Linked DNA regions of Homo sapiens. The protein of the gene in region 4 interacts with the protein of the main gene of each other region in a pairwise test. Each region holds a gene or a part of one and is shown on either strand. Other genes may lie near its edges.

The links. Proteins that work in one complex are often made in the same cells at the same time.
Region 1: the proteins of HGF (region 4) and MAP2K6 come close enough for resonance energy transfer, tested with the Homo sapiens proteins (one large-scale study listed by BioGRID).
Region 2: the proteins of HGF (region 4) and PDGFRA come close enough for resonance energy transfer, tested with the Homo sapiens proteins (one large-scale study listed by BioGRID).
Region 3: the proteins of HGF (region 4) and MAP2K5 come close enough for resonance energy transfer, tested with the Homo sapiens proteins (one large-scale study listed by BioGRID).

Annotation. Positions count from the first base shown.
Region 1 is NC_000017.11:69,526,197-69,529,696, reverse strand, and holds part of MAP2K6 (dual specificity mitogen-activated protein kinase kinase 6), read right to left. Parts: intron 3,128-3,500; coding exon 2,988-3,127; intron 1-2,987. UniProt on the Homo sapiens protein: Dual specificity protein kinase which acts as an essential component of the MAP kinase signal transduction pathway.
Region 2 is NC_000004.12:54,267,293-54,270,792, reverse strand, and holds part of PDGFRA (platelet-derived growth factor receptor alpha isoform 1 precursor), read right to left. Parts: coding exon 3,333-3,500; intron 3,242-3,332; coding exon 3,052-3,241; intron 161-3,051; coding exon 45-160; intron 1-44. UniProt on the Homo sapiens protein: Tyrosine-protein kinase that acts as a cell-surface receptor for PDGFA, PDGFB and PDGFC and plays an essential role in the regulation of embryonic development, cell proliferation, survival and chemotaxis.
Region 3 is NC_000015.10:67,804,703-67,807,614, reverse strand, and holds the end of MAP2K5 (dual specificity mitogen-activated protein kinase kinase 5), read right to left. Parts: intron 970-2,912; coding exon 865-969; 3' UTR 501-864; downstream 1-500. UniProt on the Homo sapiens protein: Acts as a scaffold for the formation of a ternary MAP3K2/MAP3K3-MAP3K5-MAPK7 signaling complex.
Region 4 is NC_000007.14:81,707,548-81,711,047, reverse strand, and holds part of HGF (hepatocyte growth factor isoform 1 preproprotein), read left to right. Parts: intron 1-804; coding exon 805-901; intron 902-3,500. UniProt on the Homo sapiens protein: Potent mitogen for mature parenchymal hepatocyte cells, seems to be a hepatotrophic factor, and acts as a growth factor for a broad spectrum of tissues and cell types.

The DNA.
Region 1 (3,500 bases), on a different chromosome or scaffold from region 4:
TTACTAAAAATACAAAAAATTAGCCGGGCGTGGTGGCGGGCACCTGTAGTCCCAGCTACTCAGGAGGCTGAGGCAGGAGAATGGCGTGAACCCAGGAGGCGGAGCTTGCAGTGAGCTGAGATCGTGCCACTGCACTCCAGCCTGGGTGGCAGAGCAAAACTCCGTCTCCAAAAAAAAAAAAAAAAAAAAAAATTAAAAACCATTTATTTCTCAAGATGTTCATTTTAAAATATCTCTAAAAAGTTTCAATGCTCTGATTCTTCGGAGAAAATTCCAGTAAGAGAAAAAATACACTGGTGAAAGAAAATTCAAGCAATTGGATGATTTTTTTTAAACAAATTGAAGAAAATAAACCTTCTAAACAGAAACTAGTTGATGGCAGGTCCATAGATCATATGTCTAAACCTGGGGTTATCACCGCAGCTGTACATAAAAATGACTTGAGAACATTTAAAAATATATTAGTATCTTGGCCCCTCCCCAGATCAGTTAAATCAGAGTCTATGAGGATGAGGCCTAGGGGGCAGTGATTTTGAAAGCTCACTAGAGTTTTATAAATGAGCAGCCACAGTTGAGAATCATTGGATTAAACTGGTGATTCACAATGGTAGACTCAGCTTTCTCAAACTTTTCACACCAGCCTCGTTCTTACCAAAATTTCCTAAAGCACCCAGAATCTTGGGAAAAGGGGATAGGTGGGAGAAAGGTAATAGGGAGAATAATTTGAAGAGACTTAGCTAGATAAGATCATTCCCCATTACCACCCCTCTTGAGAACTACTGTTCTGTACTACCCAAGATGCCTCATCTTTTTTTTTTTTTTTTTTTTTTTTTTTTTGAGATGGCGTCTCTCTCTTATCACCCAGGCTGGAGTGCAGTGGTGCAATCTCAGCTCACTGCAACCTCTGCCTTCTAGGTTCAAGCAATTCTCCTGCATCAATCTCCCGAGTAGCTGGGACTACAGGTGTGTGCTACCACACTTGGCTAATTTTTGTATTTTTAGCAGAGATGGGTTTTCACCATGTTGGTCAGGCTGGTCTCGAACTCCTGACCTCAAGTGATCCGCCCACCTTGGCCTCCCAAAGTGCTGGAATTACAGGCGTGAGCCACCACGCCCGGCCCCTCATCCCTTTTTTTGATGTGACCTTAAACATCTGAGGATAAGGCAATAAATAAATAAATAACCAACCAACCAACCATCCACAAAAAACAAGTCTTTGAATCCAGAAGGCAAAATCATGAACCCAGGTCAACCTGGCAGAGGTACTACCACATCCAGCACACTCCCTCAAGGAAAACAGACAGGAAGCAGCCTAGAAGATATATCTTTTAAGAGGCATCCAACAACTATTACACTAGTGCTCGAGGCTCCAGCCCCTCTCTAGTCATCCAGCCAAAAACAAAAACAAACAACTGCAGACCAGCCTCATACATCATCAGGGAAAAGTACCAGAAATGAGAAGGGGCCTAGGGCTAACAAAGAGTCGAAGAGCTCTTAGGTTCACAAGCAACAGACAGTTGCTTTGTTTTATGTTTCTTCCATGTTTCCTGATGAATGCTGTATTCACAGCTTTTTTTTTTTTTTTTTGAGACGAAGTTTTATTCTTGTTGCTCAGGCTGGAGTGCAATGGCGTGATCTCGGCTCACTGCAGCCTCCACTTCCCAGGTTCAAGCGGTTCTCCTGCCTCAGCCTCCCGAGATTACAGCTGTCCACCACCATGCCCAGTTAATTTTTTGTATTTTTAGTAGAGTCAGGTTTTCACCATTTTGGCCAGGCTGGTCTTGAACTCCTGACCTCAGGTGATCCACTCGCCTTGGCCTCCCAAAGTACTGGGATTACAGGCGCGGGTGCCCTGCCTCACAGCACTTCTAAAAACCATGGAGGCTGAGGAATGAAGCCACGGGGAAGATGTTCCTTCAGCTTCCTCAGTACCTCAAACAGCCTTCAGAGCTCCAGGCCCTTCCCCAGCAGTGAGTACTCAGAACGGCTCCCCTCCCAGGGTCACAGCTGGGCCTGCCACCATCTCCGAGCCCCCTTCCTCCTAATTCTCATCTACTTCTCCCGGATGGCCAAATACGCTAACCTGGCTCAGGGGTGTGCTTCACTTCTGGCATCCTGCTTCCAGCATCACTTGCCATGATCATTACTATCAAGCCATGCTAGGCATCATGACCTCTATGCAGATAGAAATTACTGGATTGTCTAGAGAATACTTTCCCCTCTTGCTTTTCTTGACTGCCCTGGCAGTTTTCATGAAAATATAGTTCACCTCATGAGTATGGCTCCCTCCCACTTTCCACCCCAACTTCCTTTGGATTCCCTTCCCAGAACTTCAGCATTGTCTCTTATGGTGGGCAAGTTTCTCCACAGTTAGCAAGTATTCAGTAGCAACCAAGGTTCTACAAGACTTCTGGGGACCTAAGAAACACTCTCAAACTACCCACTATCTTCTCACCGAAAGTAATTCTTTGCCTCTACTTCCTATCCCCAGGCCTCTAGTGGGTCCTATCAGCTTTCTCTTTATGCTTTAATCAACATCAAATTGCTTAAAGCTCACATAAAGGAGTTTCTTGCTTTCGTGACATTGTGAATGATGTTCCTTCTGTTTGGAATATGTTTCCTTTCCTATTTCCCTTTTGTCTGGAAAATTCCTCTCGTGATCGCAGCTCCAGATTTATCTCCTCCAGAAAAGCCTATCCTGAGGTCTTCCCTCTGAGTTCCTTAAATCGCCTATGCCCCTATCTCTATCACTGGACTTGCCACATTATACTATAATTATTCATTTATGAGACTTCTCTACTTGACTTTGGGCTCAGTGAGGGCAGGGAGTGTGATACGGTCATCTTTGCTTCTCCAGCAGAGAGGGCATACTCCACAAATGCTTTCGGAATGAATGTATGCATGATGGATTCAACCCCGATGGAAGAAATTCATGAGAACTCATCTTCTTCTTTCACACTGACACTTGGGAGGTGAGGCTGTCTTACCACTGTGAGGTAAAGTCAACAAACTCTGCAGAGAACTTGTCTGCTGGGAGTTGTGGCGATGGCTCCTCTACCACCTGTTTGAGCTGCTGAAATGGAGTTCCCCATGAATCATAGGGAAATCGAAGGATGGCCAACTCAATCTGGAGAAAAGAAGAAAAAAGGAGACAACAGTTTCAACAGGGCTGCTTTAGGGAATCACCCACGTTTCATTTGTGGATAGACAGCAGGAAACACAAGGCAAAGTTCAAGTATAAGTCCAGGGGTAGGGGGGCAGGAAATAAACTAATAATTTGTTCTCTAGCAATTTTCCCCAAATTCCTAGTGCTAGGGATTTTTAAATATTACTTACTAGACACAGCCACTTAAGCCTATCTAAAATGGGGACCCTCACTAAAACCCACTGTGGCACTTCATAAAAATTGTAAGCCAACCGTATTAAACTTCAGGATGTAAAGCTACGAGGATTTCAAACGTTTGGTCTGACAAGTAATTCCCAGCCTAAGATCTTTCCAG
Region 2 (3,500 bases), on a different chromosome or scaffold from region 4:
CTCATCTACAGAGCTAGCATTATCTTTATACTCCCTTTACATACCTTGAGTTAACAGTTCAAAAGTATAGCTCTTCACAGCATCTTCATTTTGAGCTACAATAGTATAATGGCCACTGTCTTCTTCCTTAGCACGGATCAGCTTTAATTTGCTTCGATACCTTTTAAAAAAAGGATTTTGTTTCAACAAGCAGTAGCTAAGTAAGTTCCAATTGTTTAAACAATTGTACTCTTCAATTTAAGTTTTATTTTTACTGTAAAAAGTAAAGTCATCTTTTTTTCTTGTCCATATCATCTCTTCTGGAATTCTCAATATATAGTGCACACACTGAAGGTCTGGATCATACACACAATTCTTACAAGAGAAAACCAGACATTCAGAGATGAGCAATGGCCATCTCCAAGAGCTATCAGTTCAGCCACGGCCTGACTTCTGAATGAATAAACACAGCCTACCAACTTTTCTTTAAAAAAATAAAAAATAAAAACCTTTGATTTTTACCTTTTTTAAAAAATACTTGCTTCCCCTAAATATCCATCATTTAGGTGGTTCAGCCAAAAAATGGAATATCACTGGAGGATAGAATGAGGACACTTTCTATGTATTTGTATGTAGCGGTCTGCAGGATATGACAGTCCTACTTGCTTGTATTTTGCTTAAAGAAACTCTGGAAGGTTTCATAAGAACCTAATGAAACTAATGAAGATGTTTCCCTGTGGGGAGGAGGGGAGAACTGGGCAGCTGGGGACAGGAGTACAGTGAGGCTTCTTACAATGCATTCTCTTTTTGTTTGATTATTTTTCAAGCACGGGATTCTATCACCTATTAAAAAAAAGTTATAGGCTGGGTGTGATGACTCACACCTGTAATCCCAGCACTTTGGGAGGCCAAGGTAGGTGAATCACTTGAGGTCAGGAGTTCGAGACCAGCCTCACAAACATGGTGAAACCCCCATCTCTACTAAAAATACAAAAAAAAAAAAATTAGCCAGGCATGGTGGCACATGCCTGTAATCCCAGCTACTCAGGAGGCTGAAGCTGAAGAATCGCTTGAACCCAGGAGGCGGAGGTTGCAGTGAGCCGTGATCGTACCGCTGCACTCCAGCCTGGGTGACAGAGCAAGACTCCATCTCAAAAAAAAAAAAAAAAGTTAGAAAAAATATGCCTCTTCAAAAAAAAAAAATATATGTCTCTTCAAACTTTATTAAAGAGAAACTTCCCCAAAAATATTTTACATGGATTATAAATGACATCTGGTTGTGTGTGTGTGTGTGTGTGTGTGTGTGTGTATGTATGTGCATAAATATAGTATGTGCCCATTTGATTGTCCTTTATAAATCATCACAGTTGAAAAAGCAACTGGAATGGAGAAGAAAAGCATTGGTCATGGAGTGAGAAGATCTCGGGTATTATTACAATGCTCCATGCCTCAGTTTCCTTGTGTGTAAAACGTGATAATTGTACACATAGCACAGAGTCATTGTGAGAGTTAATTAAAGGAGATTGTATGTGTGAAAGCATTTCATAGGCTCCAAAACACTTTGCAAATACTGGGGCACTCAGACCTACGAAGACAGCAGGCTGGACCATACTGGGTGTGCTCCAGGACTGGATTTCCTTAAGAGAGTACCCTGGGGCACACTAGGATGCTGATTACCAAATTATCCTCTGCTGTTTGTTCTCTTCACTTCTTCGGCCAAGAAAACCACTGGTTTTCTTGCTCCAGGAAAGCCAGATCCCCCATCCTGGAGTTTTAAGCTCCAGGAAGCCAGATCCCCCATCTACCATGTTCATCTTTGTATTCACTGGCTCATAACAGGAACTAAAAAATCCACGTTGAAGCATCCTTGAATCACTAAAAGGAAAAGGCAGCTTTCCAGAACCACTCAGTTGGCGAGCCTGTCCTGCCACTGCTATGGATTATGGCTTGCAGACAGTGCTCACACACGTGTTGGAGGTGTTAGCTGTACCAGGGTTGTTACCCTATTCCTCTCTGGCTGCACAGCCTCATGGAAGTTCCTCGTGGAAAGCTGCCCTCCTTGTTGTACACCTTCATTTTGTGTCAACAGAAAGCCTTCCAGATTCAGTATCCCACTTCATTTTTCCTTTACTATTCTATAGAGGCTGTAAAATTCCATTTTCTCAGACATTGCTTCTCAATTACACGTGGAATTTAGTTCACAAAGAAGAAAGCAAATCCTGAGGTGAATGGAACTGATGAGAAAGGCTCTGTTCTTCCTCCTGAAGGCTTGAAATACAGGACTGACTTTGTCTTTCTGAGATGATTTCTGACAAAAGTATAGGGCTGGTTAGCTGGGTGCTGTGAGATGTATCTTCTGACTCTTGGGTTCTAATCACAGCTTAAAACCTTAAGAGGCCTCATGATATCATCTGATCCAATTCCTTGCCTTGAAGGACATAAGGTATTGTTTATCCTACATTGTAGATGAGGAAACTGTGGCTGAGGGGTGACTCATTCAAAACTCCACCACCAATTAAGAGATGAGAGCAATCTACCATTCTGATTAAAAGGTAGGGATCCAAGCAACTCACTGCACATCTCTCTCCTGATTAGCCAGGCTCTACTCTTCTTTCCTGTGGAGTCCTCAATTAGGGCAAATGGGTTCCAGATTAAGCCTATGACGTTAACTTTCACGTAAGGTGATGTGATAACTGCCTCATGGGTGTAATCACCATATCTGTCTACTTGCGATATGGATGATGAACATCAGGGAATATATTCAATCTATTCAATCCTGGTGAGTCCAATTTTACTTCCTTTCTTCCACCCTAGCTGAATCCAGTGACCTGTCTTTCCCCAGGGGCCAGAGCTTTTAGTTCTTTCTTCTCATCTTCTCATTAAATACTTACCAGCATACTAATACCACTTTGCAATGTTATCATTAAAGGGATGTGATTTCAAGCATCTCTTAACTCAGATTGTTACATTTTCTAGACTGACTTTGGGTCTGGGTTGTAAGACACACACAAACCTCAGTCCGCCTCTGATGCACACTAAAAAAAGGCATACTTGGGCAGAGAGTTTCTTTACCTTATTTCCTGAATCTTTTCCACATCAGTGGTGATCTCAGTGAGATTTTCAATCAGAGTCAGATTGTTTTTCAGCCAGGATATCCTGGGAGGTGGGTAGGCCCGCACCTCTACAACAAAATGTTTGACTTCATGCAGGTTGACAGCTTCCAACTGGCTGAAGGTGGGTTTGATTTCAATGAAACCTTTCTCTGTACAGGGAAGAGTTTCCATTAAATAATGATTACCACATATGGATCCCGAGCAGCATGGACAACTGACATTTTAGAAAGCGGAATGTACCATGGACAGAAATAGTGACTTTCTTCATTTCTTTGACCTCCCTGGTAGCCTGGCGGGCAGCACATTCGTAATCTCCACTGTCTTTCACCGTGGCCTCGGGGACCGTCAAAGTGTACACCAATTTGATGGATGGGACTTTGATTTCTTCCAGCATTGTGATGCCTTTGC
Region 3 (2,912 bases), on a different chromosome or scaffold from region 4:
CTTCAAGTGGAATCCTGAGCCCCTTGGAGCCTCAGCTCCTCACCTGCAAAATGGGGGTAGCCAGGCTTACCTGGCATGTGGCTGAGGGGATTTCCTGAGAGGTGAGAGGTGGCAGGTGTGGGGTCAAGGGCAGTGAGGAGCAGGGGTGGGGCTGGGGTGGAGAAGGGCCTCTCAGAACAGCCCACTCCCTCCTCAGCCACGCAGGTCAGGTGGATGTGTCTGGCAGTCCAGTAAGGAGCTCATGGCGGGGGCCTGAGATCCGGGCCTACTCCTTGCCATGGGACCCATCCCAATGCCTCCGTGCTTCTGTTTCTCATCTGACAGTGGAGCTGGGCTGTGGGCCTCAGCACAACTGCGAGGAGCTAGCAGGAGGCTTGCAGGTGCCTGGGCAGGCAGCAGGCACTGTCACACACATCCCTGCTGAAGTGGAGATCCCACCTGCCCCCAGCCCTGGGGGGGGTCACAGACCCCCTGGACCACACAACTCTTATGGCAGAGGCTGTCACAAAGCATTAATACTTTTATTCCCATCAGTGATGCTGACGGGCCTGACCCTTTATAGAGAAAAACATTAGGAAAACAGAAGTGGGCAGGGACCCTGGGAGCCTCCATTCTCAATGCCCCACCCTTTACCTCTCTGCCAGTGTCAGCGCCTTCAAACCAGAAGGTATGGGGATGGCCTGGTGGGGTGGGCCACACATGGGGCTCCCCAGGCAAGGCCACCTGCTGACAGAGGTGAAGGCGAGGGCAGGGAAGCCAGGGCCCAGCAAAGCTCTTCTGGCGCAGGCAGCATACGGAGAAGGGCGACGGGTGGGTTGTTCTCCTTGGTTACTGGTCCTGGGCTTTCAGTGCCCTGCGGCAGCCTCACGGGGGCCCCTGCTGGCTCCGCCTCTCCTCCAGCGCCCGGCACACCCACATGGACACCACGGCGGCATTTCCATCATTGAACTGCACGATGAACGGGTGGCCCTGCGGGGAAGAGGAGGAGGCTGTGACAGGCAGTCCTCGGACTCCCGCGCTCATTGTACTTTCCAGGGCCTGCCCTCAGCCTGGATCTGATCTCTTTCCCCAGTAACCCTGTGAGGTAACGAGGGAGGCTATCAGCTCCATTTCACGGCCTAGATAATTGAGGCCCAGGGACGAGCAGTGACATACTGGTAGTCAGCACCAAGCGTGTGGAGTGCTGGCTGGCACATCTCAGACTCTGCCACCTCTTCCTGAGGCTCGCACTAGCCTGGAAGGTGCTTAAGGGCGAGGGCCTGTCTTCGCTGCACACTCTGCCTGGCCCTTCCTCTGCCCGGCATCACTCGCACGGCCAGTCAGCCGAGGCCTGGCACTGTGTTGCCAGCTTTCCGGTTCAGTTGGTGCCCAGAGACCAAAGAATCATCTCGTCAGAGGCTATGTCAATCCCTTTTAGCTTTCTCCTTTGTCTACAGCTCTCCTATAAAAAGAAGTCACCACCTGCAATTGGAGGGAAGGCAAACATGTCAGGGGAAGTGGGGAGGGGGAGGAATGTGCTGGGCTGTGCACAGGATCTCTGGGTTCCTGGTGAGAAGTTCCATTGGGGGCTGGACTCTGGAGGGGCCGGCCCTGTTGCCCTGTGGCCTGCCTCTGGTTCTAACCCACTTATCACACAGGCAGACCAGATTCTATTTAGCCAGTTCTCTTCTCTGCTGTCCTGAAGCACCAAGATTTACATCCACAATCTTAGGGCCTCCTGGGAATTCCCAGGGAAGGTCAGAAAAAAGCAGGGACAACCCCAGGGTTACCAGGCCACAGTCAGAGGTGAAAGGAAAAGTGAAAAGCCTTCTTTTTCTTCCTCTTCACCAAGTGGCTTCTTGCCCAGGAACTTACACCAAGTGGCTTCCTCTCCTACCCAAAACTGTGCAGCTTGCATGGTGAGACTCGGGGAGCCATAGCGAGGACAGAGAATGGGGGAGATGAGGGCGCCATGTGCCTGCCCCCAGCTCTTCTCCCTCCCTGTCCAGCGGCCGCTTCCTCGCTCCCCCCAGCTCTCTCCTCCCTCCAGCTTCCTCAGCCCCTCTTGGGCCTGTCCTCCACCTGCACAGGCTGGGCTTTCAGGGTTGCTTTCCCAGCACACCCCAGCCTTGACTGCAGCCCTAGAGAGGCTGCTTAAAGAGCCGCATGGCCTCGCCACGAGCTCATCACAAAGCCAGGAGGGATGTGGACCCTGGCTGTCCCAACCTCAGCGCCTGCAGGGGCTGTCAAGGACCAGGCCTGGGTAGAGCAGGGGACGGCATGGCCCCTCTGGACCACAGGTCAGAACTGTGGGGGACAGGAGAATGCTCAGGCCGCCTCATCCTAGGCTGATGCAGTGCCCGCCCCCAACCTTCTCATTCGAGGTTGGGAAACCTGCCCTGGGGACACCCTGCGTGGGTCTATCTCAGAGGCACACAGAGCACTGTCAGAGCTGCGAGGAGGAGGAGGAAACTCGGCTTCGAAGATGCCAAGGCACTCAACCCCGGGCAGGGACCCGCTGAGACTGGGGTGGAGCTAGGCCTGGAGCCCAGCTGGGTACTTCCCATAATCTGCTCATAGCACTCTGGGAGGCTCCTGACACACCTGCAGGACCCCTAAGGGCACAGGGGCCATGGAGGCCAGGCTGGGTGTGGCCCTGTGGATGGCAGAGGTTTGGTCTGGGGCCTGAGCAGGAGAGGCCCAGGAAGGACTGGATTTTGGCTTCCAAGTGTTCTCCTCCCCATATATATGCCCACCCCACGGCTGCTTTCCCAAATCGCTGCCTAGACAGAGGAAATCCTTCCCAAAGTCCAAGCGTGCACACTTCCTCTCAGGAGGCTCAGGAGGGGCGACCTCGTGCCCTTCTAAAGAACAAAGGGAGAAGCTGTGCTCACGAGTGACGGGCCCCTCCCCCCACGCCCGGGGTAACACAG
Region 4 (3,500 bases):
GTGGGCACAAGATGACACAGTCTATGATATTCAGTTAATCCTCAGTTTAAGAATCTGTTGGGGGCCACTTGTATTTTATTTTCACATATCTCTTGAGCTGAAGGAAGTTACTCAAGTGTTTTTGATTTAGAATACCACCTGCTGTGCCCCAGGCTCAGGAAGCAAATGGATATCTATTCTAGACCATGGGCAGAAGTAGAGGGGATAAGGCGAGGAGCACAGAGGAGGGTCAGGAAAACATTTACTCCAATAAATTTTATATTATGTCTTTGGACATAATGATTTGAAAATAATAATTATATCATTTGGATATGATTTCAATAAATCAAATGTTGGTAAGACATATTGAATAAATCTACAATCTAACTGTACAAATTCAGAAGTAATATCCAAGTAAAGCTTGGTTTTGTTTTTTTCACTGAATCTATTGATTTCTACTGACCATTAGAAATAACCATTGTAAATAACTTTGGTTTATTTTATGTTGAGGGTGGTGAGGGATTAGACCTGAGGAGCTTGGTCTTAGTGTATTGTGAGCAAAGCCATTGTCACTCTCATGGCAATCCTGTCTGCTTTGAGTTTATTTGTTTTTCTGAGTTACTCAACTTCTTAGATGAAGATGGCAAGTGTTAAGGACTTAATATAATGCTGCGGTCATATTAAACTTCTCTTTCACCAAACTGTTCTTTGGACACAATAAGAATAGTTACATTTGTGTAATTATCATTGCATTTAAGAAAACTAAGAGGCACTGATTATTTCAAATTCTTATTTTAAAAAATGTTATGTTTGGTCCTGTTTCAGATCCCGTAATATCTTGTGCCAAAACGAAACAATTGCGAGTTGTAAATGGGATTCCAACACGAACAAACATAGGATGGATGGTTAGTTTGAGATACAGGTAATTATTAATAGATGCAAGTCATGCATATCCAGAATATGTACAAGAGAGTCCTATTCCCAGAAATATGGACACATGTGGTCCTGAAGGTTGTACCCTCCACAGGGCACCTGGGTGAGGCAGTAAAAGAGGAAGCTGATCACATCTGCTTGCCAGACTGTAAGCTCTGGACTATAATTTGTGCCTCCAGAGGTAGTGCCTTTTTAAATCTTCACAAAGGTCCCATATGTGTTGGCAATGTCCCTGATTCTAAGAGACACTTTGGTTCCGATTAAGCAAAATACGGAGGACCTATTGAAACCTTAATATTACCATAGTAGTTATGATACTTGTTATTAAATTTCCAATCTAGGATATTATGGGTTTATTTTCTAATATGTTTATGCATGATCATGTCAAAACATTTATATTTGTTTTTAATTTCTGACTTTTTCCTTGTCAATCAAATGAAAAATGGTAATTTTAAATTCTAGAGCATTTTATCTTTACAAAAAGGCCAATAGTTAAATAGTCTTGATATTATAATAATCAGTGGGGATACAAAATTCTTGACATGTCTATTTCTCAATGCTCTTAAGAATCAATGACATATTCTACATAAAATCACTTTGCAAATCATATTGTTAGAGAAAATTATGCTTAATAATTATGTCATAAGAATTAAATACTGAAAATATAAGTTAACTTAAAATCTGATCTTACAACTTTCATATACTACATATATTATTCTGTATGTTAATTGGAATGCTAAAATATTTATGTCTTTGGCTATCTCTATCAGAACCTTACCATGCAACACACCCCAAGATACATTGAATTTGAACCACATTGTCTCTTGTTTTCTAGATACCTCACGTTTCTTCCTCTAAGCCTTTATGCTGTTGTTCCCACAACACACTGTGGCTTTCTTCCTCCATGTTTTATGCCTGAAAATTCCTTCTCCTTCAAATTTCAACCTAAATATCCCCTCTTTTAGAATACCCTCCTGTTCCCTTACCGCTAGCCTCCTAGAGTAGAGAAAAAGAATGTCTGTTACTATTATTAAATCACAGTGACATTAGAATAGAGACAACTTGAAACAGAAGTCCTTTTATGAATAAACCAATTATTGGAAAGCAAGAGTTTATATAATTTGATATATATGACTTTAGATGACCACAATGTTGTAGGAGATGGCCTAAAGTTCTTTTTTTAGTATACCCTTTTCTCAAGGAATGGCTTATCAGATTTTATAAATATTTATGCCAATAATTGTAGTATAGCTGTCCTAGGTGTGTAGTACTAAAATAGAATTGTGAAACTAACCAGAATATTAAAGCTGAGTGTGCAGTATGAGGATTTAGTAAAGACTTTAGAATTCTGTTGGAGTGTTTAATTTTCTTAATTATAGAAAATCTTTCAAGAGGCTGGGTGTGGTGGCTCACACCTGTAATCCCAGCAGTTTGGGAGGCTGAGGCAGGTGTATCACTTGAGGTCAGGAGTTCAAGAGCAGCCTGGCCAACGTGGTAAAACCCATCTCTACTAAAAATACAAAAATTAGCCGGGCATGGTGGCACATGCCTGTAATCCCAGCTACTGAGCGAGACTCTGTCTCAAAAAAAAAAAAAAAAAAAAAAAAAAAAGAAGGAAGGAAGGAGAAATCTTTCAATAATCCACATTTGAGTTAATTGGTGATTCTTTGCTTATCTTATAACCCCAGAGGATAAAAGAAGACATATATTAATACTTCTAAGTTATTTTTTCCAGTAAGAGAATTCACAAGGATACTGCTTTGGTCATCTCCATTGTTGGAAAAGCAGGTGAAGCTATTTTTCCATCAGATTAGAGTACTGTAAATTTTTAGTTTTTTTCCTTTTTAAATCCAAGTTCTTAGCAACAACAGCTGCTTAGTTATTCTTCCAAAACTCATACTGAAAAGGATAGAAATTAAAAGTCAATATATATTCTTATCCTCCTGTGTGGTAAAGGCCATAAATAACTGTGGTCTCAGTCTGGGAATCTTCTAGTATTACCCTCTGAAGCACTGAACATCTGTACTCTTTGGAAATGTAAATTATGAAAAGTTGTGCTTTTTCCATGTCTCTGCCAAAAAAAATGGATTTACAGATTTTGGATATCATCAAAAAAATGTACTAGTACTCATCATACTCTGCAAATATTTTACAATTTCCTAAATGATTTGCCTTGCAAAATTGTTTTACTTTAGAGATGAAATATTATATTCCTGATCTTATACTGGACAAAGTAATTTATTCAGATTCAGTTACATTTTATGTTAATATATCAAAACTACATAATGGTAGTAGAAGAAGGAAATAGTGCACGAATAAAATTGCTACCACTAGATGGTTTTCAGGGTTCAAACAAGAACTCAACTTTGCATTTTTAATAAGCAAACACTGAATTTAAAATAGATTCACATTTTTAAGAAATTATAATTATCCTATATTTGTAGCACATACGTTCCTCACAAGGATAGATGCACATACACACGAATATGTGTGTTCGGGATGGCTATTGATGTGTAATAACTTTAGACTACACAAAAGTCAAATTGATTTCATAAATTTATAGTCACATTATGAAAAAAAAGCTAACG